Regions from separate parts of the Homo sapiens genome. Here regions 1, 3 and 4 are each reported to be linked to region 2. The links are microRNA targets in miRTarBase. Many come from high-throughput screens and were not tested one by one. Region 2 holds a microRNA gene; each other region holds the end of a gene's coding sequence.

Region 1 (7,937 bases), not on the chromosome of region 2:
TTGATCCCAGATGGGCTGGCTCTGAAGGTCATGCTCCTTTCATCCCATGAGGCTTACCTTCGTTTCACCTTCAGTGTCTTACAGTGTTGTTAGAATGTCTTCATTGGCTTAACTTAACAGTATTCTCTTTACTGTGTTCAGGAGGCTTTTCAACTCGACCATTTGTGAGAAGTGTCCAGCGTCAGAGTTTGTCATCCAGATCTTCTGTCACCAGCCCCTTGGCCGTCAATGAAAATTGCATGAGACCTTCATGGTCCCTGTCTGCTAAGCTGCAGATGCGCTCCAATTCTCCATCCCGATTTTCAGGGGATTCGCCAATTCACAGCTCTGCTTCCACCTTGGAGAAGATTGGGGAGGCAGCAGATGACAAGGTCTCCATCTCTTGCTTTGGTAGCTTGCGGAACCTTTCTAGCAGTTACCAGGAACCAAGCGACAGTCATAGTCGCCGTGAGCACAAGGCTGTGGGCCGGGCCCCTCTGGCTGTCATGGAAGGCGTGTTCAAAGACGAATCGGACACCCGCAGATTGAACTCCAGTGTCGTAGATACACAGAGCAAACATTCAGCACAAGGGGACCGCCTGCCCCCGCTCTCTGGTCCATTTGATAACAATAATCAGATCGCTTATGTGGATCAGAGCGACTCCGTAGACAGCTCTCCAGTCAAAGAGGTGAAAGCCCCCAGCCACCCAGGCTCACTCGCAAAGAAACCAGAGAGCACAACTAAGAGATCCCCCAGTTCCAAAGGCACTTCTGAGCCAGAGAAAAGCTTGCGGAAGGGGAGACCAGCCTTGGCAAGCCAGGAGTCATCCCTTTCAAGTACATCCCCTTCTTCTCCTCTTCCTGTAAAAGTCTCTCTAAAGCCCTCCCGCTCCCGCAGCAAAGCAGATTCTTCTTCCAGGGGCAGTGGACGGCATTCATCCCCTGCCCCTGCCCAACCCAAAAAGGAGTCATCCCCGAAATCTCAGGACTCCGTGTCATCTCCTTCGCCACAGAAGCAGAAGTCAGCCTCGGCCCTCACCTACACTGCTTCCTCCACATCTGCCAAAAAGGCCTCGGGCCCTGCCACAAGGAGCCCTTTCCCACCTGGGAAGAGCAGGACTTCAGACCACAGCTTGAGTAGAGAGGGCTCCAGACAAAGCTTGGGTTCTGACAGAGCCAGCGCCACCTCCACCTCCAAACCCAATTCCCCTCGGGTGAGCCAGGCCCGAGCAGGGGAGGGCAGGGGGGCCGGGAAGCACGTGCGGAGCTCCTCCATGGCCAGCCTGCGCTCCCCCAGCACAAGCATCAAGTCTGGTTTGAAGAGGGACAGCAAGTCTGAGGACAAGGGGCTGTCCTTCTTCAAATCAGCCTTGAGACAGAAGGAAACCCGGCGCTCGACGGATCTTGGCAAGACAGCCTTGCTCTCTAAAAAGGCTGGTGGGAGCTCTGTTAAGTCTGTCTGTAAGAACACCGGGGACGACGAGGCAGAGAGAGGCCACCAGCCTCCAGCTTCCCAGCAGCCAAATGCAAATACAACGGGAAAAGAGCAGCTTGTCACCAAGGACCCTGCTTCTGCCAAACATTCCCTGCTGTCCGCTCGCAAATCCAAGTCTTCCCAACTAGACTCTGGAGTTCCCTCGTCTCCGGGTGGCAGGCAGTCTGCAGAGAAATCCTCAAAAAAGTTATCTTCTAGCATGCAAACCTCTGCACGGCCTTCTCAAAAACCTCAGTGATATTTCTGCAATCAAAGTGTTTTATCTGTAAAGATGTTTATTTATTTAGAACCCCTGCCCTCCCACCAAAGCCTCCTGTGCTTTTGTTTTGTACTTTTTTGAGTCACGTGCCCGACTGTGTGTGTGTGTGTGAGTGTATGCGTGTGTGTGTCTAATTCAATTGCAAATTGTTCAAAGCGTCGCCTTATTCTGCCATTGAACCAAATAACAGCCATAGGCAAAACATTGACACCAAGCTAACTGGAATAATTGTAGACGATACCCAGGACGGTCCCTTTAGCAATTGTACATATTTCTTTCTAGAGAACTCTAATGACTTTCTTTGGATATGAGGGTTTTGAAACCTGTGAACCAGAAAAGCTACCATTAGTGCGTAGAAGGAGGAAGGAGCTGACTCGTGTTTCTTCTGAGCAGGACTTGTCCTTACTGTGGATTGTGGGTGGCACCAGGAGCTCTAAAAACTGTGACTCTAACAACGAAACAAATCGAGGGAAAAACTCTTGCTTTCTGCACTTTCGCCCCATCTACCAGTCTTTGTAAAGGGCAATATTTTAACACTAATGTTTCTCAGGTATATACTCAGCTAGTCTAGGATGGTTGCACACCAGTAAATGGATTAAAGAGGAAGGTGCCATGTGGGTGACTGTGTCATTTCTCCTACTGCCACAGATAGACATTTTCGAGGTAGAAATGAAGCCTTTCACCACCTTCCTATCTGTGGTGACATGTGCACCAAAACCTGTCTTGACTCTTGGGATAGGTCCTAGGAAGTGGCAGATTGGATAGCCAGAAAGCCAGTCACTCGTTTAATTTTTTTTCCTTCTGAAATTACTAGCTAAGGCTCTTGGAATTTTGCACTGTAGTAGAGCAGTTAACACCTTTGACAGATTCCTGGAAAAAACTTCTAGATTCTAAACTGGGTGAAAGACTGGACATCATTTTCCTTGTCAGGTGTTGCATTTTTCCGTTAGAGGTGGGAAGCTCCACGATGCCCTGTGTCTGTGGGCTCATGTTCCCTCATCTTGTAGCTTGGAGAGGAAAGAAGTTGCCTTCTGCCAAAAGCCAATGGTGGTATGTTGAAGCGTTGTGTGATCAAGTGTTACATATGCACTTCAGATCCTGTCTGTCAGTCTCTGTTAGGGCTGCCTTTCAGTAACTCATTTATTATTTCTTCTTTGTTCTTAAGATTTCATCTCATGCCCAGAACTCACAAGCAGGTTTTGGAGTGTGTTCCATCTGGCCGTGTCAGTGCAAATTGCATTTCTTACAAAGGAGAACCTCACCAAAAAAAACCTCACAGATAAGCAAAGTATATAGTTTTGCAAGCTTTTTCAAGGTCTCCTGGCAATACTTTCCTGCTCAATTTTTAGCTTTTCTTTTTTTTTTAAATGTCAAGAGAGTGAAGGTCTTGATTCTCTCTGAATAGCATTTGTCACTTTGCCAGTAAATACAGCATGCTAAGTTTATGTGCTTTTAAATATTAGCGTTTTTCGTCAGACTCTTCAAGTTCTTCTTGAACCCTTGGTGCACAGATCCATATATAACCTCCCTTTTCAGTATTGCTGTGTGTGAATTAACTACAACACATATGCATGCATAGCTGTGAATTCTGCACTACTTTTTTTTTCTTTTTTCCCCCCAAGAATATCTCTTGGGAAAAGTTTTTAGTACGTTACTTAACTTTATTTTGCTGCTAATTTGCGCATTAGCCGGTAACTTGCAAGTCTGGAGACCACTTACTGTTGAGGGTAGCTGGAATTTTAGACCCTTGGCAGTATTTAAGATTTAGACATTTAGCCTTGTGAAAGTTACCACAGTGCTCCATGTGATTCATTGACTGTGAGCCTGTTGTCCATTGCACTCAGCCCTGTACTCACTTCTTCACTCGCTGTCCTGGTTTTACTGTTCAGATTTTGGTGGGTTCTCAAAGCAGTACCACTCTCATCTGCTCAGTACATCTGCGGCAACTGGCTGCCTTCGATGCTGTCATTGCGTTCAGCCCAGCACATCACAGCCCCATCAGTGTGTAGCCACCGCTCTCGTTTTTCTGTATCGCTTTTATCTCCTGAAAAAGATGCACCAAATAAGAGATCATCTATATCAGGAATTGAATGTCTAACTCAAACCTCTCATTTTTGTTTAATAGGTAGATCTCATTTGAAGTCTCCTATCTGAATCTCTGAAACAATTATAGTTTGATTAGACAAAGGTTTTTAATAACACTTCTTTTTTGCTGTAGTCAAGCATTAATAGAAACTAGTTTAATTTTCACAGTGGTAAATATTTTTATTCTTGAGTTATCTAGGAATGGATTTTCCACGATGTCTAGTGACTTAAAAAAAAAAAGGAAAAACGTTTCTACAAATCCCTTTGGTTTTCCATGGGATCTGGAATAAAATGTCAGTGTCTATAAACTGTATGTCATGGAGTTTAGTCCTTGTTTCAGGTTTAATAGAAAAAATCAGGAAGTATCATGGCATTGTCTAGACATCATGAAGCTATTTTATTTCCATAGTTGGTAAACAGTGAAAATTTCATTATCTCCAACTACTAGGTACAACTTTAGGCCACAGGAAAGGTTATTTGGCCCGAAAGTTTGGAGGTGCTCCTTGAGGTGGGAAGTATCTTGTGGGAAAGTAGTTACTTGATTCAATTTAGTTCATTGGTAGGGTTGGGGACTTGGTGTTGGTTTCTTTCTTTCTTTTCTTTTTTTTTTTTTTTTTAATTTTCCCAGCAATATTTAGCACAATGAGCGTGTATGTGCTTTGGGGTTAAAAATTATCTGCTAGGGATGATAGGCCTGGGTTTCTCGTTGACATCTAGATGGGCCTGATTAGAGCAGTCATCTCCTGGTAGGCACAAAATAATCACCAACAGTAATGTTGTATCTGTAATGTTTGTTTGCTTTTTAAAGTTTTATTCTTGATTTCTTGTAAACATCCATTGCACTGAGGCCGTATCATTCCTTAAGACAGCCCTACATCTTGCCTTGGTAATCCCTTAGATAATGTGGAAACTCAAACCGTTAGGCTCCAGTCATCTTAGACCATTTCCCATCCGTTTTGTATTTTCTCGTCCTGAAAGCAGCTGAACTGAAAGTAAGTAATAATATGCTGGACCAGTGGGAACGGATGTGGGAGTATTTGTGGTGTGCTAAAATACTGTAATTATCTGTGAGGCTGCCTGACACGCTTTTGCAATCTTGTTTTCATCATTCATTCTGCAAACGTTTATGGAGGGCCTTCTTTGAGCACAGAGGCAAAACTGAAAGCTTCAGGGATTTGCTGTAGCTGAGGAGCCCTGGGAGCACAGCCCATCAAGCAAGGGATGTGATGGTGTCCTAAATGGAGTGACAGTTCTCCTGGGAAAAGAGATCACGTGGATTCCGGTCAAATCGGCTAAGGCTTGTGGTTCTCTTGAGCAAGTCTGTTCCTTCTGGAAACCAAAAGTGCCCTTCATCTTTAGAGACATTTTACTCTTCCATCCACCTTTTCAGACTGAGCTGTCTCTACTATTTAGGGGTTGAAAATCCATTACACAGTCACTTTACGTTAACATTGGGTCATCTTATGTTTGTATGAGACGGATGTGGGATTTGAGGGGAACATTGTCATTCCCTTAAAATAACTATCATGAAAAAAATAGCAACAGTATGTAAAGGGACCAAGAGTGGCAGCCTTTAGGGAAAATGGAGCAGAGAAGAGCTGTGAACAAAGCTCATTTATTTGAAATAAGCGTGCTTTATTTCACATAGAGGGGCATCAGACGTTACATTTCATTCGGACAAATTACTGAACAGCCGAAGTGATTGTTTCCAATGTAGGTTATTATAATTATTGGATACAAAGATTTAACTAGTGTTTCTGGGTTGGATTTTTGAAATAGTATGCAAGTCATAAGCACAGTTTCAATAAAACACGTATTCTGGAGGTGCGTGGAACTTTGTATTATTTGTAGTTGAGAAAGGCAAACTTTGCTGACAAACCAGTACCTATCACAAACGAACACAAAAAGTAGCTGTTACTGTGCAGGCTGTCTTTAACTTTCATTTCATAAAGGGTACATTATTGTTAAACTCTACTACATGGTTTGGGGAGAAATCCAGTGGTTTTATTTAAATGAACACTCTCACACTGCCTTTTGATCAACTTTCAAAGTATTTTGCAGATGCATTTTGAGCATGACCATTTTTTTCCCCAAGTAAAAACAATTGTGCGTGGCCTCCATATAACTCAGAAAGCATGCTCTTACTACCTATGCAAGCAAACAATAAAACATATAGACATGAAATGTTAAGTCTTAAAAAAAAAAGGCAACAATTATGGAGCTCTATTTTTAAATTTGTGATTTTCAAAATATGGCTTACTCATCATTGTGTAGAAGAGCATGAATGCGATTTCTTGTTTTGCTCTGCATATATTTCTCTGCTGTTTTTCTGATCATTGGCGAGATTGTAAAGTATTTTGCAAGCAGAAGTGGAATTGGATATGTTGAACACACATCATTGGTGTACATACTGTATTTAGCCTGAAGACTTTCCTAAAGTGTTTTGTTCTAAAAATAACCTGCCATTTTCTATAGATTTTAATTTTTTATATCTTCAAGGGTTCTATTTTGGTCACAAGGAAAGAATGTGGCTTCTAATAGTGCTAAGAATTAAAAGATGCTTTTATAGAGACTTAGAGCTATTTTGAAAAGCTTTGGGGCTTCCCAGCCACTGATCACAATTAGACTAAGCCCATGGAATTTCTGGGAGTGTTGTGCAGTGGATTCGGTTCTAGATCCATCTTACATTTGTTTAGTGTTTCCCAATTTTTGGGAGAAGGGGTGCACAGCAAATTTGAGAGACTTTTTTGAATCTCACACATGTATTTTCCTCAAGATTCTTTTAAGCCTCTTCTGAATGACTTGTCTGAGATAGTGAAGACCCACATTAACTAGAATCAGCTGGGGAACTTTAAAAAATACAGTGCCTGGGTCCCAGTCCCTAGCTTTTGATCTAATTCATGTAGGGGTGGGATCCAGGAATTACCATGTATTTTAAAAGCTTCTGGGTGTTTCTAATTTGCAGACAGATTGAGAACCACTATGATACGTCATCCCTTTACTGAGAATTATGGCGAGAATCACTGCCATTTGAATTACTCAGGAGTGACTGATTCCTCAGTTGTGTAGGAGAAGCAGAAAAAATAAGAATAAAAAGAATTGAGAGATACTGATATCAAACTCCCATTTGAAATACAAGGGCCCTTCTGATTCAAGGCCCAGTTGGGGAGCTTGGACCATGTTGTGAATGGCCTAGCACTCGCCAGTCTGGTGGAAATTGGTGGTCTTAGTTGCTGGAGCAGGCTGAGTGTCCCCGCGGGGTTTGCATCTGTCCCCAGAACCTTTTCCCCAGGCCCGTGGGGGAATAGGGAAGTCACTCTGAGCTAGAAATTGTCGAAGAAGAAAAGAAACAACCTTCCTAGCCTTGGAAAGCCTGTCCCTGCTTTTGATAGAATTATTGCCTTTTTGTAGGAATTACAGTAGCAAACCCCAGGCTGCCGCTGAATTTCCTACTTTTGCTCATTCTCTAGGATAGTTCTTATCCAGAATGTGGTTTCAGGAATTCTTTTTTTTAGTTTGAAAATGAATGTGAAACATTTTCTTTGGTGTCTTTTTTTTAAAAAAAAAAAACCCTTATTGCTATTTTTTCGTGTTTTTGTTTTGTTTTGTTTTTTGTTTGTTTTACCATTAAGTAATACACATCCCAGAATTTGGCACTCTGTGTTAACTGTGGAGGCAAATAAAATTTAGTTTTAATCTGTGGTGAGCTGAATGCACTACAACACCTTCGAAGTAATCTGATGGTTTCATTCTGTCGAGCCTCATGCTGCCTACAAAACACCACAATTTACCTGGTGTTTTCAACATTTTAAGGAATGAAGATACAAGTAGACATGCAAGTTGGAAATGTTTCTTTAGAAAGGCCATCCAGAATAATGATATCTGTTGCAGTCGTCCAAATGCAATATGAAATTTCCTAGGTGCTATTATAAACGGTGTGGTGTCATACCAAATGCAAAAGCAGTTACAGTATTTCCGAAGTTGGAGTTCTCTTTGTAGGCCTTTCAAATACGTGTTTGCATTCCATAGAGGTCTGCTCACCAACTGTGCCTCTCACCACTGGTTAAAATTGAATTTAAGCCTCATTGACATAAGTCGTTTCTTGATTGAACTCTTCAG
Region 2 (7,921 bases):
CCTCCCGGACGAGGCGGCCGGGGTGGTAGCAGAGCTCGGAATCTTCCTCTTCCTCCACCACCACCACCTAGAGGGGGGTAAGTTGTTTTTTTTGTTGTTGTTGTTTTTTCTTCCCCCATCTATGAATTATTAACCTGCAAGAGGCTGCACTTAGTGGTAGACAAGGTAGACTTTGATTTGATATGTGTGGCATGTAAGCACGTTTAGATTACAACAAGTACTATGCTTGCAGAGACCTCATGGCCTATGACAGAAGAGGGAGACCTGGAGACCGTTACGACGGCATGGTAAGAACTTTGGTTTATTACCAGTGTGTTGGGTATGTGAGGGTTGTCACAATGTAGTTCACGTTTTGTTGAAGGTTATAGTGATTAAAAAGTTTTTCTTACAAGTAAATTTTGTTTGGATTACTAGTTAAATAATTCTGTTATTTGCTGCTGGAGGATTACGACTTTATTGAGCTTTGTTCCCCTCGATTACAAAATTGCTGCCTATATATGTACCCTCTTTTGTTTTAATGTAACATGCAAATTAGGCATATTAAAAACAGCTCTATAACAAAATACAATGCGGGTTCATGTTAATGTTTTTATCTCTAACAGGTTGGTTTCAGTGCTGATGAAACTTGGGACTCTGCAATAGATACATGGAGCCCATCAGAATGGCAGATGGCTTATGAACCACAGGTTGAGTATCATAGTTGTTCGTGTGTATATCAGTGATAATTTAAGATGCTTACCTGCTCTCCAGTAAGTTTTTTATTCCCCTGAGGATACTTACTGAAAATAGGATACAGGAGGACTTTGGTTTCCTGAAGAGGGATTTTATGAGATTAAAATACTTGAATAGTGAAGCTGGGTGCAGTGGTGCTCACTCATAATCCCAACTACAAAAGAGTCTGAGGCAGGAGGATCACTTGAGCCCGAGAGTTTGAGACCAGCCTGGGCAACATAGCAAGACTCCATTTTATTAAATGAATTTTTTTAAAGTACCGGTAGTAATTACAACGGCAAAGTAATTTTCTATTTTTTTCTTTCTGTTTTTAGGGTGGCTCCGGATATGGTAAGTTCTCTCCTTTGTGAAGTCAAACATTAATTTCATACTTTTTAAATGAACTTACTGCTCATTATTTAAATCAGATTATTCCTATGCAGGGGGTCGTGGCTCATATGGTGATCTTGGTGGACCTATTATTACTACACAAGTAACTATTCCCAAAGATGTAAGTATCTTTAATACTACCAGGAACATTTTATCACTTTTATGATTATTCCTCCTTTCTGTATATTTTTTAATTCAGAAGGTTTTAACAAAAATACACATTTAGGATTGAGGTTATGTTAATGGGCTTTAGTGAGCTGGGTTTTCAGCTGTTTGAGTCTTGTCAAGTGATCAGTGCTATTAATAAAAGTAGTTAAGTAGGTTTTGAGCCCTTAACTAACTAAGGGAAACATTAGTAAGTGTGACATAAATACATTATAACTCAAACCTTGACAGGTTTAGGGAGCGTTAGATCATCAGTTAAGATTCTGAATGAATAAAATTAATAACTTCATGCTCCTTGAAAATACAGGTAGTAAATGTTAAAAGTATATCGTAAACACATACTTTTAAAAAATCTTTTCAGTTGGCTGGATCTATTATTGGCAAAGGTGGTCAGCGGATTAAACAAATCCGTCATGAGTCGGGAGCTTCGATCAAAATTGATGAGCCTTTAGAAGGATCCGAAGATCGGATCATTACCATTACAGGAACACAGGACCAGATACAGAATGCACAGTATTTGCTGCAGAACAGGTCAGTTTAAGTTTAGCTTTGTGTTAGCTTATACATACTAAAACCTTTAAAAAGCTTTTCTTCTCAATTGATTTTTTTCTTTTAGAAGCCATGGTGTCTCAACCTTTTGGGGACCTAACTTCTAAACATTCTAATAGTTTGCCTTAATTTTTCTTCTGCTTTCTTACTAAAAATGAAGACATTCAATACTAATCTTGCTGGAAGAAGCCTTAACCAAGCAAACTTCTCATTTCTCTGGTGAAAACTGCTGCCAAAACCACTTGTTAAAAATTGTACAGAGCCTGTAGAAAATATAGAAGATTCATTGGATGTTGGCCTAGTTCTGTGTGGAAGACTAGTGATTTTGTTGTTTTTAGATAACTAAATCGACAACAAATCACAGTCTGCCATATGGCACAGGCCATGCCTCTACAGGACAAATGATTGGTGCTGTAAAATGCAGCATTTCACACCTTACTAGCATTCTTTGTCTTTTCTACCAAATATTAACAACTTTCAATTCCGTTTTCTTAATTCTGTTCTACTAATGTCCGATTTACTACTCATCATTTTTCTTGACACTTAACATTGCTTTAATTTGTAATTGCTAATGGTTTTTGAACTCTTCTAATTGTAATGGACGTGTTTATCATTTTAATTTAGCATTGAAATTGTCTTGATGTTGATTAAGATGTTACGAGCAAAAATTCTAATTCGCACTTTTTTTTCTTTTCTTTTATAGTGTGAAGCAGTATGCAGATGTTGAAGGATTCTAATGCAAGATATTTTTTCTTTTTTATAGTGTGAAGCAGTATTCTGGAAAGTTTTTCTAAGACTAGTGAAGAACTGAAGGAGTCCTGCATCTTTTTTTTTTTATCTGCTTCTGTTTAAAAAGCCAACATTCCTCTGCTTCATAGGTGTTCTGCATTTGAGGTGTAGTGAAATCTTTGCTGTTCACCAGATGTAATGTTTTAGTTCCTTACAAACAGGGTTGGGGGGGGGAAGGGCGTGCAAAAACTAACATTGAAATTTTGAAACAGCAGCAGAGTGAGTGGATTTTATTTTTCGTTATTGTTGGTGGTTTAAAAAATTCCCCCCATGTAATTATTGTGAACACCTTGCTTTGTGGTCACTGTAACATTTGGGGGGTGGGACAGGGAGGAAAAGTAACAATAGTCCACATGTCCCTGGCATCTGTTCAGAGCAGTGTGCAGAATGTAATGCTCTTTTGTAAGAAACGTTTTATGATTTTTAAAATAAATTTAGTGAACCTATTTTTGGTGGTCATTTTTTTTTTAAGACAGTCATTTTAAAATGGTGGCTGAATTTCCCAACCCACCCCCAAACTAAACACTAAGTTTAATTTTCAGCTCCTCTGTTGGACATATAAGTGCATCTCTTGTTGGACATAGGCAAAATAACTTGGCAAACTTAGTTCTGGTGATTTCTTGATGGTTTGGAAGTCTATTGCTGGGAAGAAATTCCATCATACATATTCATGCTTATAATAAGCTGGGGATTTTTTGTTTGTTTTTGCAAATGCTTGCCCCTACTTTTCAACAATTTTCTATGTTAGTTGTGAAGAACTAAGGTGGGGAGCAGTACTACAAGTTGAGTAATGGTATGAGTATATACCAGAATTCTGATTGGCAGCAAGTTTTATTAATCAGAATAACACTTGGTTATGGAAGTGACTAATGCTGAAAAAATTGATTATTTTTATTAGATAATTTCTCACCTATAGACTTAAACTGTCAATTTGCTCTAGTGTCTTATTAGTTAAACTTTGTAAAATATATATATACTTGTTTTTCCATTGTATGCAAATTGAAAGAAAAAGATGTACCATTTCTCTGTTGTATGTTGGATTATGTAGGAAATGTTTGTGTACAATTCAAAAAAAAAAAAGATGAAAAAAGTTCCTGTGGATGTTTTGTGTAGTATCTTGGCATTTGTATTGATAGTTAAAATTCACTTCCAAATAAATAAAACACCCATGATGCTAGATTTGATGTGTGCCCGATTTGAACAAGGGTTGATTGACACCTGTAAAATTTGTTGAAACGTTCCTCTTAAAAGGAAATATAGTAATCTTATGTATTTTTTTGTGTGAAGTGTTTTTCTAGCATTTATAAGTGAAAGCTGGCAGGGGTGGTAGTTGGGCTCATAATTAACGTGGTAATTTAGCAAAATGAGAGCCTAGTCATCCAATTTTTTTTTTCTTATAGTCAGCCAGAGCTTTCCTCATTACCTATGAGAAATTTTGAGTGAGTTACTTGGTTCCTTTCTCTAAAATAGCTTTAGTTTGATGTTTGAGAATATCGGAGATAATGTAAAATAACTGCAGAGTATGGTTCCCGGCTCATATTTCTGAAGTACTACTTATTAACCTCCAGCTGTCCAGAAAGCTTGAAAACTGTTTTTGTTTTGTTTTGTTTTGTTTTTTGAGACAGTGTCTTGCTGTTTTTCCCAGGCTGGAGTGCAGTGGCATAATCTTGGCTCACTGCAACCTCCATCTTCTGGGCACAAGCAATCTTCCTGCCTCAAAACAGATGAACAACTATATAGGAAAGGAGTCATGAATGTAATTATTGAATTTAGGTCAGAGGCTTGTGTATAATAAAAGTAACAGTTGGGCAGTTCTAGAATTCATGTAAGTATTAATAGTATGAACAGAATAATGTCTTTTAAGGGAAGTAGAGTTGAGTGACATTTAGTTTGGGGAGGGACGTAGAGTGATCTTTTGATTAATGAAGAACATGAAGTAAATGTCAAAATATTACTTAAAACTAGTGAATGCTACCTGTGGTATGGTTTCCCCAGTGTGGTTGAGTTGGGGTTGCTCAGGGTGAAATGAGCCCTTACCCCTAAAGAAAAATGACAAGGACACTTTAGTCAAATTGTTAATCCTACTGAAGGAAAGCATCCCTGGAGAGAACACTGGCTTCCAAAGCTTTTATCTGTTACCTGTAAATGAGTTATGTAACACATGGACCATTAGCTGCAAATGTTTTCACTTTTGCATTTTACAATAATTTCAGACCTTAAACACATCATTCTACTGAAGACTTAATGGATTGAAGAATATCTGGTATTGATATCTTTGATATACAGCTTTGGGAGGGAGAGGGGCCTTTTGCATTGCCACTGCTATTGATTGGTAAATGGTATTTAAAATTTGGGTGAGAATTGGGACAGGTTGGGAGAATTTTCACAAAGGGTGGGAGAAGTGAACATAAGCTCTTTAATTAAATGGAATATTGAGACAATTTTGTAAGAAGTTACTGGTGTATAATGCTGACTTAGTTTCAAAAATTTAGCCTAACTTTTTGTAAGTTAATTACCAAAATGCCAACAGACAGAAACCAAGTTGTACTAGTTATCTCAAGAATTTAAAACCTTTCCCTACTATTCAAATTTTGTTTGCCTTTGTTTTATTGTACTGAGACATATAATGTAAAATACTAAATCTGATCTAATAGCAAAGAAAATCAAACCAAACAGCAAAATTTCCTTTTAAAAAACCCTTTCATTAGTTTTAAGGTTTTTTAGTACTCAATTACTACCGTTCCACGTGAATTAGGTAATGAATTGCTTCAGATTGCTGTGATTCGAAGTAAATTTAATTAGCCTCGGTGCAGTGGCTCACACGTGTAACCCCAGCATTTTGGGGGCCAAGGTGGACAGATGGCTTGAGCCCAAGAGTTTGAGACAGCCTGGGCAATATGGTGAAACCCCATCTCTACAAAAAATTAGCCAAGCATGGTGGCGCGTACCTGTAGTCCCAGTTAGGAGGCTTGAGGTGGGAGGATCGCCTGAGCCCGGGAAGTGGAGGCTGCAGTGAACCTTGATGGCACTACTGCACTACAGCCTGGGTGACAGACCCTGTCTCAATCCAGTAAGTTTTTATGTTAAAGAGAACCAAAAAAAGGAGAAGAATTTTTGTTTTTAAAAAGATGGTCTGGCTGTGTCGCCCAGGCTGGAGTGCAGTGGTGCTATCTCGGCTCCTGGCTCAGGCCATCCCCAGAGACCTTCCTATATTTCAGACCGGGGCAAGAGCAGTGGGAGATGATTAATGAGAGAGCAGAAACTCCAGATGGGTTGAAAAGGACGCCAAAAGCACAAAAACAAGGCACTAGCCTCACTTCTAATTTGAAACCCTGCAAAGTGTTCCTATGACCACATGGGATAGAAAGCACAGAAGACCGAGAGATACACAATGTTTGGCACAGAGATGATCTGAGATTACAGACACAAACACCCCACAGAATTTTCCTTTGATTCCCAGATGTCGTAAGAGGGACATCACTTGAGAACCAATGGGACTTGTGATGGGGTCATTATGGTGAAAGATAGGGTTACTGCATAGTAGCAGCTGTAAGATAAAGAGCCCAGCTAGTGGCTGGATACAGATGGCAGAATAGCAAAAGATTTGCAGTACCAGTGAAAGCCAAGGCGAGATAGTCAAGGAGAGACCACTGAATTGAGTGCCAGTTATATTAGCTTTGGCGCACACCTATAATCCCAGCTGCTCAGGAGGCTGAGGCAGGAGAATTGCTTGAATCTGGGAGGCGGAGGTTGCAGTGAGCCGAGATCGTGCCACTGCACTCTAGCCTGGGCAACAAGAGAAAAACTCCGTCTCAAATAAAAAAAGGAAGACCAGTTTTTTCTGCTATCAGTGGGAATGGGAATTTATGAGAAAACTCACAAGGCATATCTAGGAATTTACCCTGGAATTACCAAGAAACAGGAGAGTTAAGACTAATGCAATCAAACCATAAATTCTAGGTGGAGGTGATCTCACTTGGAATGGGCCTTCAGATCATTTATTCATACTTTGTGTCTCAAATTGGTACCAATTCTGTGTATAGTTCAGACTCTGGAACTCGGGATCAGGCTGACACTGCTGAGACTGCATCATGGTTTGACCAATTTTCCCTGCCCTGTGCTCCTTTCCTCATTCTGCTTCAACTGAGAGCACTCTCGAAGTGAATCAATTGCACAAAAATCCCTGGCTTAGGCTCTGCTTCTAGGACTTGATCTAACACAGTTAAGCTGAAGCTAAAGCAGAAATGTACATCACCCACATATCCTGGACTTGATTGTGATGCAGCAAATAATGAGACTGGGTTGTCTCCCTCAGAAGAGGGGGTGAGAAACTTATGAAGAATAACTGCATTATACTAGTATTTCTGAAAGTACATGAGAAAAAAATTCTTGAATGCTGAACAGCTAAAGGGTGAATTATAATGGACATCTTATTAATACCACATCAGTTTCCCCTTTCTAATTGCACACAGTTTTCCTTGAGTTTTTCTCTCTCCATTGTACATAGGCTTGAGGAGAAAGAAATCCTGGTCCTTAACGGGTTATTTTGTCACCCCAGAGGGTGGACATTTGATTTAGGCTTGGCCAACCAGACTCTTTCTCCTGAGATTTTCAATCTTGAGGAGAATGATGCAAGCAAGCTGTAATGCTTATAGGTTTTTTTGGGTTTTTTGTTTGTTTTTTGAGATAGTCTCCCTCTGTCACCCAGGCTGCAGTACAGTGGCATCTCGGCTCACTGCAACCTCCGCCTGCCAGGTTCAAGTGATTTGCCTGCCTCAGCCTCCGGAGTAGCTGGGACTACAGAACTACAGCCACCACACCGAGCTAATTTTTTTTTTTTTTTTTTTTTTTTTTTTGAGACAGAGTCTTGCTCTGTCACCCAGGCTGGAGTGCAGTGCTGTGATCTCTGCTCACTGCAAGCTCCGCCTCCCGGGTTCTCGCCATTCTCCTGCCTCAGCCTCCTGAGTAGCTGGGACTACAGGTGTCCGCCACCACGCCCGGCTAATTTTTTTGTATTTTTAGTAGAGACAGGGTTTCACCATGTAAGCCAGGATGGTCTCCATCTCCTGACCTCGTGATCTGCCCGCTTCGGCTTCCCAAAGTGCTAGGGATTACAGGCGTGAGCCACCGCGCCCCGCCTTTTTTTTTTTTTTTTTTTTTTTTTTTTTTTCAGTAGAGACACGGTTTCACCATGTTGGCCAGGCTGGTCTTTTTTTTTTTTTTTTTTTTTTTTCCTGAGATGGAGTTTCGCTCTTGTTGCCAGGCTGGAGTGCAATGGCGCAATCTTGGTTCACTGCAACCTCTGCCTCTGGGATTC
Region 3 (7,786 bases), not on the chromosome of region 2:
TACAGAGAAGGGCCTGCCATTGCGAAAGACCCATGTGCTGTTGGGAAGGAGCCATGACACAGTGCAGGAGGCAGCCACCAGCCGCAGAGCCAGGGCCAGCAAGAAGACTGCCCAGCCCTGGGTCGAAGTAGTGTTGGCCTTGCGGAACATGAAGAACCTGCTGTTTTCCGAAATGTGGGACATATTTCTGGTGCGCTTGCTGATGGCCATGGCAGTCATGCTGTACTACAGTAACTTTGTCCTGGCCCTGGAGGAGCGCTTTGGGGTGCGGCCCAAGGTGACAGGCTACCTCATCAGTTACAGCAGCATGCTGGGGGCCGTGGCCGGCCTTGCCCTGGGGCCAATCCTACGGCTGTACAAGCACAACTCGCAGGCACTGCTGCTGCATTCCAGCATACTCACCTGCACACTGCTGCTGCTCTACTCCTTGGCCCCCACCATGGGTGCAGTTGTCCTCTCCTCCACTCTCCTGTCCTTCTCCACTGCCATTGGCAGGACGTGCATCACGGACCTCCAGCTGACTGTGGGCGGGGCCCAGGCCAGCGGCACCCTTATTGGCGTGGGGCAGTCTGTGACTGCAGTGGGCCGCATCATCGCCCCTCTCCTCTCGGGGGTTGCCCAGGAGGTCAGCCCTTGCGGCCCCCCCAGCCTGGGCGCTGTGTTAGCCTTAGTGGCCATTTTCATAATGTCTCTAAACAAGCGACACTCTAGTGGTGATGGGAATAGTAAATTAAAAAGTGAGTAGATGGATTTGGACAACATAAAGCAACAAAATTTGAGATGGTTGAATGAGGGCCGGAGGCCATGATGAAAAGGGCACTTTGGAAAGGGTTGGGGTGGAAGGGAAATATTTCCGGGTGGGTGTGAGCTGTTGGGCTTCCAGGTCAGCTCTTGGCCATGCAGCCATGCCTGCAGGATGATCAGAAGTCACGGCACCTCATGGGAAGGTTAAGACTGGAGCAAAGCTTTTCCAAGGTGAGCATATTCAGCGTTTACCTGGAAGTCTCTTCTTCCCACCTGGGCTAATCAGGTTACAATTTTCAAGGGTAAACAAACTACCAGCTACAGGATAGGGAAGTGGTGGTGGAATAAGAGAACATGATACCTGGAGGAAGGGAAGAAACCACAAGCATTTTCCTACTGAAAAATAGGGTGACATGTCAGTCAAATTCTGATCAACTGGAACTTGAGTTTCCAGTTAAATTCCATACACTAGGAGGGAGTTTTCTATCAAAATCCTGCAGATTGAAGAAGCTGGTTTATTAGAACCAGCCTGTCGCTTTTCAAAGCTGCTTAAAAATAAGATACTGACCTCACCCCTAGAGATGATTCAGTGGGCCTGGGTGGGGCCAAGAAATCCGTGGTGTTTTGTAAGCACTGCTGGCGATTTCTCATGGCAGTAAAGACCACACTGAGACTGCACTGATTTTGATTAAAGTACATAGGCTTGGCTGTTTTTACACAGCTAACTAAATTTGGACTCTTAAAATTGTGTTTGTAATCACAGTGTGTTACACCTTTCCCAGCTCTCAGCAGTTGTACTGCATGATGGAGCAGCGGGCCCCTGGGACCTGTTCCCTGTGCTCCCTGCCTCTGAGAGCCCAGCTTGCTCTGAAGTTGGACTAAACCACTTAGATGCTGGGGTTGCCACAGCCTGCTCCTGGAAGCCTGCATTCCAGTCAGGTTGCATCCTTCTGGTGCTGACAGAACCCAGTGGTGAAGCCAAAGCACAGGAATGCTTTAAAAATGAACAGTTTATGCAGAATAAGGGTCAGGAGTCATGCCAGACCAGAACTTGATGCTACTGTGTCTTGTGTTAAGAATCATTTCCTGGCCAGGCTCGGTGGCTCAGGCCTGTAATCCCAGCACTTTGGGAGGCTGAGGCAGGTGAATCACTTGGTCAGGAGATGGAGACCATTCTGGCTAACATGGTGAAACCCCGTCTCTACTAAAAATACAAAAAAAAAATTAGCCGGGCGTGATGGCGGGCGCCTGCAGTCCCAGCTATTCGGGAGGCTGAGGTAGAATGGCGTGAACCTGGGAGGCGGAGCTTGCGGTGAGCCAAGATTGTGCCACTGCTCTCCAGCCTGGGCGACAGAGTGAGACTCCGTCTCAAAAAAAAAAGAATCATTTCCTTTATTTTTAGTTTCACGCCTGCAAACACAAGCATTCTGTTGATCAACGGAAATATTTTGATGTGCCATTTCTTGTCTAAACAAGTTTCATATACAGCACCGAGGGGGCCACGAGAGGCAGAGGCCCAGACAGAAGGTGAACATAGCCTTGCAGGGAGACATATGCCAGGCAGGATGACCATTGGGATTGCATCAAGTATTAATCAGTTACTTAAGGGCTTCCTGTCAGACAGTTGAAGTTCACATTCCTTTTACTTTTCTTAATTAGTCCACTAGGATGGTATGCCTGTTTTCAACTTAACACATGCATACTTGTAAATATTTTAGTATGCTACAGTAATTTGTCATATCTTTAATATTTATTGTTTGTAAAGCAGTAAACATTTCTGTATTTTAGAAGTCATGGAGTAAAATCAAATATTTATGATAAATAATTGGAAGTATGTTTTAGTTTGAAGATTGTCCTTTTTCCTATCTTGCTGCAAGGAAAAATGGACTTCTGATTAGGTTTTACAATTGTGAACTTTTATGTAAATGTTAAGTGCTTTCGAGGAGACCAAACTATTATTAATATATAAAATGGCCTTGCCCTTAAGGAGCAAATTAAATCTCATGGAGATTAGACTCAAAAGGCAATAAATAATCGAGGGTTTATGCAATGAAATAGAATTTCAGAAGAGTTTGGATCTCAAAGATTGTCCTTCACTCTCAGAAACAGGCAAGTTTCTTAAAAGCCCTTATAGTCGTGTTTTTATTTTAAAAATCGTAGCACTTTATTTTTGAAGTTTAAAAAGCCCATAAACTTAATGAGTCTTTATAATCAGACACATGGAAATATAGAAAACCAAAGACTGATCTTAGAATATAGAGTAGAGAGACATGTTTGTTATTCTCCACTAGTGACTTTAGTATTTTGTTATGTGATGTTTTTTAGGTGCACCTTTTCTCATGACTCCTTTTACTTTATCTAATGTCTTCCTCTTTAAAGTGTGACCCAGAGACCAGTAGCATCAGCATCACCTGAGACCTGTGAACACTGAAGCTCCAGCTCAGACATGTTGGGGACCATTTTAATAAGATACCTAGCTGATTTTTTGCACAGCAAACTTTGAAAACCCCTGGTCTAAGGGGTAGTATTTGTATCACTTATGGAATATAATCTCAGGGAAATTAAATCTGCTCAATTGACATTTGTGGTGTTTCATTTTTTAAATTCTCTTGAGTAACTTCTGTAGCCCTTTCCAGTGTGTCAGGTTGAGCCACATGAAGTTGCTATTTTTGTAAGTCAAAAATATCTTCATAGGGTGCAACTCACTATTCTATGGAATCTTATTTTAGGAGTATTGAACCTTCCTGAAATGTCTTTGAAGGAAGTGTCACCCTTTCCAACACTCTGCCAGCCATAACTGCTTGGGAACAGGTCTCCAGGATTTGGGTTCCATAGAGCAGAAGGTAGGCCTCTGCCCTCATGTCTAGAGGGATGAATAACATTCTGAAAAGGTACAGGGTGTGTCTAGTCACAGGAGTCACCTGCAAGGCTCCAAACTCAGGCTGGATGGCCCCTTGGGGAGTGAATTCTGCAAGAGTTGCACCTGGGGCCAACAGAAGGAGCTGGAATCACTGATTCTGTATCCTGGCTACATGCCTTAGACCACAGGAACCAGACTCTGAAGCACCACAGATGTTTCTGTGAACATCTGGAGTTGGGAATCACTGAGTTAGATCAAGAATGGATTCGGCTGCCATGCTCGGGTTGAGATTGTATTGACGGATGAAGGGGAATGACGGAAGAATTCCTGCGGTAAAGTGCTGTGAAGACACTCCTGTTTTAGAAAGAGCTCTCTAGCCGCAGCAAGGAGGATTAACTGGAGGCCCAAGGAGTAGTCTGGACTTTGGGGCAGTAACTTTAGGGGGGCCCTGAGGGAGAGCTGGTCGCGAGGACAGGGACAGCAGGCAGAGGTTGTGGCCCACAGGGCAATCGCAGGAGAGGTTGTGAATAATTCCCAGGTGATGAGTGTGCAGCTTTGAGGAATTTCAAAGGGTTGCTTGGCGTCTTTTCCTGAAGACACTTCTATAAGGTATTTAGAAATCTATCAGGAGTGAGAATCAGTCCAGTCAGAAAATTTTAGGCATTTGGGCAACTGCATTCAGAAAACAGCTATTTATTTGGAATGCATAATAAAAGCCATGAGACTGAATCTCCATGCCTCTTTGCCCCCTAGTAGCCTTCAAGAAGTCTCTAAAACAGGGTTACCACAGATTTAGCCAGGATGATGTGTAGCAGCTTTTCTTGGAACAGGTTGATGGATTAAAATAACTTTTTTTCAGCTCTAATGTTTTTTTCTTGAATTTGCCAGTCACATGATAATTTTCTTCAAAAATAAAACTTTATAATTGTAATGAGGAACTGTCATTTATTCTTATAAGTTGTATTTTTAGAAGTCACTGATGTGTCTTGCTACATATTTCAATTCAGGATCCAGAAGTGCTTTGAAAAATGTCATCTCCAGTATGCTAGAACACATCTTAATATTAAAAACAAGGCTTTGGCTTTTAAAACCATTATGCAGATACCAAATATATATGTAATCTGACATTTATACTGAAGGCCAGTAAGTAGAGGACAGTTGATCCTTGAACAACACAGGGGTTAGGAGTGCCAAGCCCCCAAAACGGTAGAAAATTTGAGTGTAACTTTTGACTCTCTAAAAATTTACTACTAATAGCTTACTGTTGACATGAAGCCCTACCAACAATATTAATAGTCGACTGACATGTATTTTGTGTGTTACATATATACTGTATTTTTACAATGAAGTAAGCTAGAGAAAAAATGTTAAGAAAAAGAAAAATAATATTATTAAGTGGAAATGGAATCATAAGGGTCTTCATCCTTGCCACCTTCATTTTGAGTAGGCTGAGGGGGAGGAGGAGAAGAAGGGATTGATCTTGCTGTCTTAGGGGTGGCAGAGATGGAAGAAAATCCCCGTTTAAGTGGACCTGTATAGTTCAACTCTGTGTTGCTGAAGGGTCAACTGTACTTTTAAGGTAACATCTCACAGTAGGATTTATTTCTAGTTAAGCAGATGCACAAATACTTAGATCTCTCATTTTTCCCAAACAGGTATCTAAACACCATTTTATAGATAGCTGTCTACTAAAACAATAAAAGCAAAACTTCTGTTTTCCTGTTTCAGTATATTATAAGAAACGTTTATTTATGAGATGGAGTCTCACTCTGTTGCTCAGGCTGGAGTGCAATGGCACAATCTTGGCTCACTGCAACCTCTGCTTCCGGGTTCAAGCAATTCTCCTGCCTCAGCCTCCCGAGTTGCTGGGACTACAGGCACGCGCCACCACGCCCAGATAATTTTTGTATTTTTAGTAGAGACAGGGTTTCACTATGTTAGCCAGGCTGGTCTCAAACCCCTGACCTCAGGCGATCCGCCCACCTCTGCCTCCCAGAGTGCTAGGATTACAGGCGTGAGCAACGGTGCCTGGCCACTGATTCTTATTTTTAAAAGTGACTTAACACAGCTTGTATTGTTCCTTCCAGGGAGAAGATAATTATAAACATTAAGGAAGGAGTGTTAATTATTGCTGATAACTTACACAGCGTAAGAATGAACTGTAAGGATCTTGTTTGAACAAAGAATTGTATTTTGATCAGTCTTTATACTACATCTTGATACAGTTCTTTTTTCTAAGCATCCACTGTAGAGGAAGAAAGTGGTTAAAATACCTATTAATGATTGCAACTTATAACATGGATAGGAGACAGTCTTCCTTCAAGCTTACCAAAGAATCTCCATGCCATTTTGAGTAGTTGAGACACAGCCTCTTATCCAGACAGAACTAGTTTTTTGTGTGATAGCTTACCTACCTAAACCTGTCCCAAGTTTGCTTAATGAAATTGAAACCACATGAAATATCCAAAGCAAACCTAATAAAGGTGTTCTGCCGCTGACTCGGGCTGGACCCTTGTGGGGCTGTATGTATGCGACTTGGTAGGTGTTTGCCTTAAGTAGTCTGTTCTGTGGGGCTGAAGCATAGGCCTGGCCATCTCAAAGCCTAACATCTGTCAGGCCCAGTCTGTGACGTCACTGACAAGGGTGAGCATTTTCTTTGGGGCACCTTCAAAGTACCTTCACTGTGCATCTCTTTGGAGTGAATAGCACTGAAAGCATGATGAACTGTTACTGCCATTCAAAATAACTTTCTAGCTAAAGGTCAGGACTTAAACTAAAGGTTCAATAGTAAGACATAGTTATGGTAGCAAATCTATTATTTATTAATCAGATGCCAAACTATGTATTCATGGAAACCTAAAATTTGATGTGTTAATACACATCTTTGCATAATCTTTAAAAATTATTAAGGCAATAATTGGAATTAACTTCTTTTCTTTACGTTTGCATGGGAAGGCCGTATTTAATATTTAAAAGCATACACCATTTTTGAGCCCTTTTGCAGAGCCTTTTTAGATATAAAAATTAATGCACCAATTAAAATGTTTATTCCTCTAATCACGTTCTATTACACTGTAATAGAGTTAGCCTAGTCTGAGATATATGTATTTGGAATTAATAGAATTGAAATTTTCAATACTCTGAAGCTCTTACCTTTGAAGAATTCTAGCCATCACAATCCCATTCAACATAAATGAGAGTGGTTTCATACACAAATACAAAAACTGGGACTGTTCTGTTTTCATGTATGTACTATTTTCTCCATAAGTGATTAAAGGTTTACATGTGATTTAATATTTAAACTTTGGTAAGATTTTTCATAGAAACAAGGAAAAATTTCCTTTGTCCGTGTACATATACAAAATTTGTTTGGTAAGCAGGGTTATCCTAAGTGGATACAAAGAGCTTCATCTAAATTAGAAATTTAGTCTCCAGTCATACTTATGACTCAGCAGGAGCCAATAAAATAAAAAAGGATTAAAATGTCTGAATTTTTAATTCAAGATGTTTTGTTCCAGAAATCAGAAAAATCACAGCCTCTGTATCTGGTATTCTGTCTGCTGGGCATCTCATGGAGTGACATTTCCGTACCCTCCAGTAGGAGAACAACAGATTCCCATACAACCTCTGCACATACTGAAAGTTCTTGACGTATGTTCTGAGCCATCAAAATAATCTCTATGCTGTGTAGATTGAAAAGTTGATAATAATCCATTCACAGTAGACAGGTTAACTCTACACCTAGAAAAACTCATTTCCTGACCATGCGATTAAGAGAACAAAACTACGATTTATTAGCTATACATAGTAAAATATGATTTTATCTGAAAAGGTGCAGGAAGTTTAAAAAGGAAAAAGGATCAAAAATGATGTGCCAGCGTGACACTGAAGTGGTCTGCAAAGTCCCCATCTGCATATTTGACCTGCACGCCCCAGGGTGGCTGATCCCTGTCTGAGGGTGTCAGCTAGACGCAGAGTGGATGATGCTGGTGGATTCTAAAGGAAGGTGTCATCTGTCAGGGACAAGGAGCCATGGTTATGCCACACAGCTGGTACCCAAAGGGGACTTCTGCTTTCCTTAGAAGAGGGTTGAAGAAAGGGTTGGTTAAAAAGTGAGATAAAAAGTAGCAGTGCGCCACACACTTTAACCTTGTGTGTTCTGAGCCACGAGTGTTATTTTTC
Region 4 (7,937 bases), not on the chromosome of region 2:
GAGGTCAGTGGCCATGGGCTGTGGAGGCCGAGCGTGAAGTCCGGGCAGACAGCGGGACCAGCTGCCGGCGAGGGTGTCGGCCCTCACTCAGCACCTCCTCCCTGAGGCCTGGAGCTCACGGGAAGGTGCTGCAGGTGGAAGAGGCCTCCCCCGGAGGGGGCTCAGGACGGCGGTCCCCACGGCCAGGGTCACAGCTCACCCGCCCGCCCCGGGGCCGCGGAGGCCACTTGGAGCAGAGCTGGACACAGGGAGCCCTGCTGGCCCCAGACCAGCCACTCCCATGCACCCTTCCCCCCGCTGCTGTGCCCTTTCCTCCACGGCTGCCACCGCGCCTGCCAGGCCCACTGCCCCTGGTGTTTCTTCTGCTCCTCTATCCCTGGGAGGTGCTGTCGGAGGCCACGGGGGCTCTACCCAGCACCCCATCCTCTCCCCTTCCTGGGGGACGCCCCCTTGCCCTTGCCTGGCACAGACCCGCCCCGCTCCTCTCAGGATGGACGGCGTCCAGGCTCCAGGGCCCTTTCGTCCTCAGTGCCTGCGCGCCTCCATGTCCCTCGGCCTCCCCTCCCCGGGCTCTTGGGGGAACTGCCCAGGCTCAGGCCACAACAGCCTCTGGCCTCTTGCTGCTGGGGCAACACAAGCTCCCCAAGGAGCTCGCCCCAGCAGCTCACCCTGTCCCAGGAAGGTCTCCGGGCCTTGACTCTGCCGATCGGACTGGCATCCCAGACAGTCAACTCTGGGATCCCTAGTCCAACAGGAGGGCCTGGGAGTGGAGCCCGCGGGCCCCACGCGCCTTGCGGTCCACACTCCTGGCTGCCTCCCACATCTCCGCCGAGCTCCAGCTGCCTGTGTCTCCACGTGGGATCCGCAGACACCTTAAACTTGTGCCTAAAAATAGCTCCTCTCTCCCCAGACCTGCTTCTCCCCCACCTTCCCCTCGGTGACGTAGCAGCGCCTCAGCCTGGTTTTCAGCCGAGACCCAGAGACCACCCCACCCTCCACACCCCAACCAGAAGTACTTCCCACACTGAAAGCCCAGCCTGTCCGTCCAACCCAGGGTCTTGCAGCCCTCTCCAGGCCATCCCTGTGCCCAGCGGGGACCACACAGGTGCCTTCCCTCAGTGAGATCTGGGGGGTCCTGGGGCCCGAGCCCAGGAACAGGGAGGAGGTGTCCCCTGCCCCACGCTCCCCTTGAAGCCCTCCTGCTCTTCTGGGGTTCCCGGAGGTCAGTCCCCTCAGCATATCCGGAAAGTGGCCGCTTTCAGTGGCAGGGCTCTCGGTGAGGAGTGACCATGACCGTGGCTGATTCCTGGTGGCCACCGATCACCTGGTGACGAGCCTGTCCACAGCCATCGTCCATCGTCACCAATGGGCAGCTGCTGACCACTGCCCAGAATGTGCAGCTGCCAGAGGCCCTCAGGGGAGGAAGCTGTTCCTGACCCCTTAGAGAGTCCTCACCCACCCCAGGGGCTCAGTAACTTTGGGGGTCAGAGGTCACAGCCTGTGTCCCCCACCATGGCTGGCCTGGGTACCTGTAGCTCCTCTCCCTGCACCTGGCCCTCCTTCCTGGAGGGCTCAGGTCTCCCAAGTGAAAGCAGGAGATAGGCCTGGGCAGAGATATGCTATCTGCACACGTATGTCTGTGACATGTACATACGTGTGTCCTGCCTGCACCACACACACCAGGTGTGTCCACCTGAGGCCCAGTGTACATCACGTATACACACCAGCCACATGCACGGGACATGGCGTGATACTGTGGACATGGGCCCCGGGAGCGCCACACCCCCGCCCTGTGCACGGTGTGTCACGCGAGTGCATGTTCGCTTGGCTTTGCAAAACGCAGCCACCCTCTCCACGGGGCGCCACGTCACGTGCATGGACGGATGTCTAGTTTGGACGCTGCCTGCCAACAGACTTTGGAGCATTGATTTCCATACACGTTCTCCACGTCAACGTCTACGTATAGGCACGTATGAGGCCTACACATGTACACACACTCGTTCTGAACACCAGCGTGTACACACAGGGAGCCTCTCATGGCAGTGCACGGGCATGGTGGATACGCAGATACCGCATGTGCAAGACTGCTGTCTGCACACACACTGGCTGCAGCTACACGGAGACATCTTGACATGTCCCTGAGCACACGGCACTGTATATTGTGACATACATGTACTTTGCATACACATATATGTTGTCAATATACAAGGGCACTCTGTACGCTGAACGTACATATCCTGTATGTAGAGATGTGAACAGAGCATAGATACATGGACACACACGCAGCAATACCGTCTACAGCAGGCTGTGGCTCTGCTTCCCACACACGGCTGCCTTCAGCGTGCACCCACCCGAGTCCACGCGTGCTCTGGACACGGCATGAGCCGCCCTACATGCCCTGTGCAAATACTCTAAGGCGCCTCTGCCTGCCCCGCGGAGCCCTCAGTGTGCTGCCACAGGCGGATGCACACGGCCCCAGCCCACGTGCGTGGAGGCCGCACCTTTCTGATGCTCTGGAGCTCGGGTCTGGGCCCAGCCTCCGGGAGGCAGTGGAGCCGACCTCAGGCCTTTGCTCAGCAGTCGGACCTGCCAGCCAGGGACACGGGGCTCTCTGGTAGCATGTGGCCACCCCACAAGCTCTTACCCCCTACCCTGTGCCCAGCACACGTGAGGGTCACAGACACCCCGATCTCTGCCTTCTCTAACACCCGTGTTCTTCATCGACACGCCTGCTGCACCCATAGGCATGTCACACGCTTAGCAACACATGCAGCTGTCCTGAACACACATGCCCCACACCCACACGTATGCACAGAGACCCCCGGAGCAGGAGGCAGCAGAGATGACGAACACGGGTTCTGGGCTGGTGCCCCCTTTGTCCTTCACTAGCTGTGTGACCTTGGAAAAGCCTGTCCTCTAAATCCTCCGTCCACTTCCTCATCTGTTCAGCAGGGTTAACAGCGGCCACTGCGTGAGGGTGTCCTGAGGGGTGGAAGTGCATGCGTGCGTGCGCGGGGGCTGTGTGTACGCACATGTATATGCACAGACGCCACACACATGCGCGTCTCATGAGAAGATGTTTATTTCGTACATGGACGTACAAACATGCATGGCCAAGAGGATCCCATCGCTACACGTGCACAGAGGGGGTCACACGGTGGGTGCGGGGGGTCTGGGCGCTCCCCTCAATCTGAATGACCTTGAGGAAGCTCCACCTCCCCGCTGCCCCCCCAGCCCATCCCTCAGCTCCTCTCCAGCCCGGGGGTGGTGCCCAGTGCCCCTCAAGGCAGGCCCTTCCCGCCTTGACCTGCATTCCCCTGCCCAGGGACTCAGTGCAGGGCCCAGCCCTGTGCCAGCAGGCGCTTCCTGCCCCAGCCCTGATGAGGCTGGCTTGGGTCTCCACTGTGGACATCACACTGGGCTGCGGCTTTCCGGCCTCCAGGCTGGACCAGGAGGCCCCGTGACCCATTCCGCCATCACCCTGGAGGCCTCTAGGAACGGCGTCCTAAAGCCATGCGCCCCCAGGAGACCCCCGCCCACCTTGAGACAGCTCCTCCCCCTGCGCACCTGGCAGCCCTCAAGGGTGGAAGGCGGCTCGCGGCCTGCGTGGGGCTGGTTCCCCCGCGCCCCGAGTGGGCCCCGCCACACATGTGCGCTCACGCGTGTCGAGCCGGCGCCGGTTGTGGACTCACCGGCCACAGTTGCAGTGGCAGACGCGGTCCTCGCCCCGCAGGTGCGGGAGGATGTAGTTGTGGAATCGGTCCAGCAGCGCGTTCATGTCCATCAAGCACGCGATGGCCTGGAAGAGCTCATGACCGGTCAGCGCCAAGGAGCGGGCGGGACGAAGCGGGGCTGGGGGTGGGGAGCGCAGGCCGGGGTCGGGGCAGCGCAAGCGGGGAGCGAGAGCGCAGGCCGGGGTGAGGGGAGCGTAGGCCTTGGTAGGGGGAGCGCAGCGGGTATGGGGATCGCAGGCTGGGGAGGGGAGCGCAGGCCGGGGTGGGGGGAGCGCAGGCCCGGGAGGGGACCGCGGGCCGGGGAGGGGGAAGCGCAGGCCGGGGTGGGGGGAGCGTAGGCCGGAGAGAGGAGCGTAGGGAGTGTGGGGATCGCAGGTTGGGGAGGGGAGCGGAGGCCGGGGTGGGGGAGCGCAGGCCGGGGAGGGGAGCGCAGGCCGGGGAGGGGAGCGCAGGCCGGGGAGGGGAGCGCAGGCCGCACGGGCGGTAAACAAGGCGCGGGAGGTGGGCCAGGCGGCGCGCGCGGGCGGGGAGCAGGGGGCGCGCGCGGGAAGCCCCTCCGCTCACCATCACGACCGACGCCCCCAGAATCATGAAGATCATGGTGTTCGCGCTCATGGACATCGGGCGGGGCCGGGCCGGGCCGGAGCGCCGCCCCCCGGCCCCGGCGCCCCCCCGGCCCCGGCCCGATGCTGAGCCCCCGCCGCCTCCGCAGAGGTCAGCGCTTCCCTGGATCGTCCGCCGCCGCTCGCTGCAACCCCGGCACCGGCCGGGGGGAGGAGGCGCGGGGGGGGGGGCGCCGGGGAGGGACGCGGGGCCTTTCTGGGGTCTCTCGGCCCGGCCCGCCGCGCTCCGCTCCGCCCTCGGGTCCTCCCTGCGATGCGCTCGGCTCGGCTCGACTCGGCTCCGCTCGGCTCCGGCCCCCTCCCTGCCTCCTCCTCCCTCCTCCCCCCTCCCTCCCCGCCGCCTTCCTCCGCCTCTCGGGAGGGACCGCGCAGACCGCAGGCCGCCCCGTGCCAGCGCCGGGAGGAGACCGCCATCCCCCGGACGCCGGCCGGGACCCCTCCCCGGGAGCCTCGGCTTCGCGTCCCGCCCCAGTCTGGTCAGACCCAGCCCCGGTGGCCTGTCCGGTGACCCTGGACGCCAGTCCTCCGGTCCTGGAGGGGCGCCGAGGCCCTTCCCGCCCCACTGCTCCGCCCTACGTCCTGGACTCCCAGGTCGCCGGGTGCGGGACTGCCCCAGTCCGCTCGGCACGCACGTGCCTCCAGGGTGGGGTCCGCAAGGTCGCGACAGCCCCACGGCCGTGGGGGCCACAGGTCAGGGACGGGATGACCCCTGGAATCCTCAACGGAGGGATGTGGCACAGGAGCCGAGGGCAGGGCCGCCCCGCACAGGCTTCCCTTAGGGCGGGGACGAGGGGGTCAGCCCAGGCCCATGGGTCGGGACGCCGGCCATTCAGAGGCCCAGTGGCCACCACTCCGCTGTGGCTGTCCCTGGCTCGGGGTCCTGAGGCCAAACTCTCATCCACGACCGGTGACCATGTCTCAGGCCCGGGAGCCGACCCCCGGCCTCAGCAGGAAGTCAGCGGGAAGCTATGCCTGGGACCCAGCCTGGGTCGTGGCGCCATCCAGGCTCACTGCAGCCTCCACTCCTGGGCTCAGGCGATCCTCCCGGCTCAGCCTCCCCCGTAGCTGGCCTTGGGGGATCCCCGCCCGGGGGGGTTCCACATGGAGAGGGGACGCCGCTCCACCACAGGCAGCAGTTGTGGCAGGAGCAGGCGGCTTCCGCTTCAGGCAGCACAGGCACGGGTAGGCCCAGACCCTGTCAGCACCACCAGGTCTGAGCTACTCCTCCCAAGCAGTGGTCGGAGGTCACTGAGGGCGGCAGGGCTAGGCCTCTGCCACCTCCTCAGGGGCGAGGGTCGGGCCAGGAATTCAGGACCAGGCACAATGACAGCAGCATCTGTTTATTGACAATTCCAGGTCATTCCTAACACGCCGCAGCAGGGCTCTGTACAGTCCGGCCCGGTGGGGAGGAGGGAGGGAAGGCAGGCACACGAAGACACAGGTATGTCGGGAAGTGCACACAAACCGTTGTCTTTCCTTTTTGGTTAAAGAAGAAAAACTTTGTAATCAATATCCTGCTCATAAGTAAAAGTGGAAAAGAAGAAACTTGATTGCTTTCATCTGGCGTTTTGGCATCTCCTCTCCCATTTCATATGCACAGTTTATTTGGGTAATGCTACCGTCACCAGCAGAACACCTGTAAGTAAAAACAAATGTCAGGAAGGAAAAAGTATGAACAACAGGAAGCTCCAGAGGCGGCTCCATGCGGGCGCTGGGCTCAGTAGAAGCAGACGGTGTGCAGAAAGGTGCGGCCACTCTTCTCCTCGAACTCCTGCAGCAGCTCGTCGATCTCGTTCTCCATGTCTTCCGTGTGCTGGATCTGCAAGGACAGGACCGTGGTGAGGGCCTTGCCCACTCCTGCCTGTCTGCTCCCCCTAACACCTGGATCGCCAGGGAAACGCCAGGCCTGAGCCAGCAGAAACCAGCGCAGCAGGCAGGCCCTCACCCCACCGCTGCTGCCTCACAAGGACGGCCGGAGGCTGCAGGGGGAGAGCGTCCCGGGCAGCCCCCACCTCCCCACCGACCCTCACAGGACCTGAAGCTGGGAGGAGCTGGGAGGAGCCTGGAGCTGGATTCTGAGAGGGGCCCAGCACGGAGACCTGGCGGCCAGGGCTCAGACCCACACATGCACAGCGGGGCCGACCAACCCTCACCGCCAGCGCTTCCACACCACCAACAAGCGAGCGGGGGCAGCCTGGTCATCGGAGCATCCTGGCCTCCATCCACCAGAGCCCCTGGCAGAGGGCCGCTGCCCCAGAGTGAGCAGGCCCGGCTCCTAGGCACACCTGCCCTGGCACCGGCAGCTCGTTACTCGCCATCTCCACTGTCCCCTGGTCCCCAGCCTTGGCCAGCACCCAGTGCCTCTAAGCAAGGAGCGGCCTGTCTGTGACTCAGCTCTGGCCAACGTGACCCAAGCAGAAATCGTGCAATAACTTCTGGGACGACATTTTCTTATGACCTTTTCTCCTGCCAGGCGATCATGAAGACCGTCCCTGGCGCTTCAGCAGCCACACTGGACCGTGAGGCACGTGGGGACCAGAAGCCATGCTGGGTGGGCCAGGCGGAGCGCAGGAGCCTCTGCGGCCACACAGCAGCTTCTCCCAGCGCCCGCCCGCCTGGCTCCCGGGCTTTCCAAACACACCATCTTCTTTCTTGGTGAAGCTGTTCTGTTTTTCTGTCTTTCACAGACATTCATCAAATCACAGAGGCAGAGGCAGAGGCAGAGGCGGGACGGTGCGTGGGGCTCTCCTCAGGCAGGTCCTTTCGTCACAGCCCAGCACCTCCACGCCGCAGCAGGGTGGCTACAGAAGCCTTGGGGTGCCCCGGCCCCTCTGTGCAAGGGAGACATGCAGGGCCCACTGGGGAAGGCAGGTGTGCAGAAGGCCAAGTCCAGGGGTGGACGGCGGACACAGAGCCCTTGGCAGCCTCCAGGCTCACGTGGGGCACACCTCCGACTGCACCGCATCCCGGAGAGCTGCATGCTCTGCTCACTGAGGTGGGGCTGTGTCCGCCACGGGGAAGAGACAAGGTACCAGGCGTTCCCTGGAGCCGTGTCCTGGGAGAGGGACTAAGCCTGTGTTGGGGAGGTCCCTGTGCAGCGTCTCTCAGCTGAGCAAAGGGCATTGCAGGGGGGCCTCCTGTGCCAAAGCTGTGGAGTGACTCACTGAACTACCAGCAGGCGCCCCCGACACAGGCGAGCTGAGCAGACCTTGCCCCAAGCAGCAGGGCCGGCCTCAGGTCTCGGCCACTCCCCTCTGTCACGGCCTCGGCCACTCCCCACTGTCACGGCCTCGGCCACTCCCCTCTGTCACGGCCTCGGCCACTCCCCACTGTCACGGCCTCGGCCACTCCCCACTGTCACGGCCTCGGCCACTCCCCTGTCACGGCCTCGGCCACTCCCCTCTGTCACGGCCTCGGCCACCCCCTCTGTCACGGCCTCGGCCACTCCCCTCTGTCACGGCCTCGGTCACTCCCCTCTGTCACAACCTCTGCCCAGCGCGGCGCCCAGCCGGGTACTTACACACTGGCAGAGCTCACAGATGAGAAACGCCCCCAGGGTGGCCTCCTCGTGGTTGTCCTG

What was found. Region 2 holds the annotated microRNA hsa-miR-7-5p (UGGAAGACUAGUGAUUUUGUUGUU, at 2,125-2,148, shown strand). A microRNA usually pairs through its seed, bases 2 to 8, with sites in the 3' UTR of a target mRNA and lowers its output. Matches are read on the target gene's strand: a 7mer-m8 pairs with bases 2 to 8, a 7mer-A1 pairs with bases 2 to 7 and ends in A, and an 8mer does both.
Region 1: the mRNA of USP31 is a reported target of hsa-miR-7-5p. Seed matches in the 3' UTR shown: 7mer-A1 at 5,189-5,195.
Region 3: miRTarBase lists SLC67A2 as a target of hsa-miR-7-5p. Seed matches in the 3' UTR shown: 7mer-m8 at 3,108-3,114.
Region 4: miRTarBase lists SSU72 as a target of hsa-miR-7-5p. The part of its 3' UTR that is shown has no 7-base or 8-base seed match.

Annotation. Positions count from the first base shown.
Region 1 is chr16:23,061,821-23,069,757 of GRCh38, reverse strand. It overlaps USP31 (ubiquitin specific peptidase 31), which reads left to right. Exons shown (of 16, transcript NM_020718.4): 16 at 142-7,937. The coding sequence ends at 1,712. Among named protein-coding and RNA genes, the nearest start is that of USP31, 84 kb to the left of the region's middle. RefSeq lists an enhancer at 1,287-1,788.
Region 2 is chr9:83,964,038-83,971,958 of GRCh38, reverse strand. It overlaps MIR7-1 (microRNA 7-1), which reads left to right and starts at 2,102; the gene lies at 2,102-2,211. It overlaps HNRNPK (heterogeneous nuclear ribonucleoprotein K), which reads left to right. Exons shown (of 17, transcript NM_031263.4): 11 at 1-77; 12 at 233-287; 13 at 603-686; 14 at 1,047-1,062; 15 at 1,140-1,222; 16 at 1,628-1,797; 17 at 2,519-3,876. The coding sequence ends at 2,552.
Region 3 is chr2:102,711,379-102,719,164 of GRCh38, reverse strand. SLC67A2 (solute carrier family 67 member 2) reads left to right here. Exons shown (of 6, transcript NM_032718.5): 6 at 1-4,535. The coding sequence ends at 745. Among named protein-coding and RNA genes, the nearest start is that of SLC67A2, 22 kb to the left of the region's middle.
Region 4 is chr1:1,535,992-1,543,928 of GRCh38, forward strand. It overlaps SSU72 (SSU72 homolog, RNA polymerase II CTD phosphatase), which reads right to left. Exons shown (of 5, transcript NM_014188.3): 4 at 7,878-7,937; 5 at 5,682-6,176. The coding sequence ends at 6,075. TMEM240 (transmembrane protein 240) reads right to left here and starts at 4,633. Exons shown (of 4, transcript NM_001114748.2): 1 at 4,299-4,633; 2 at 3,693-3,799. The coding sequence starts at 4,355. RefSeq lists a silencer at 3,218-3,512.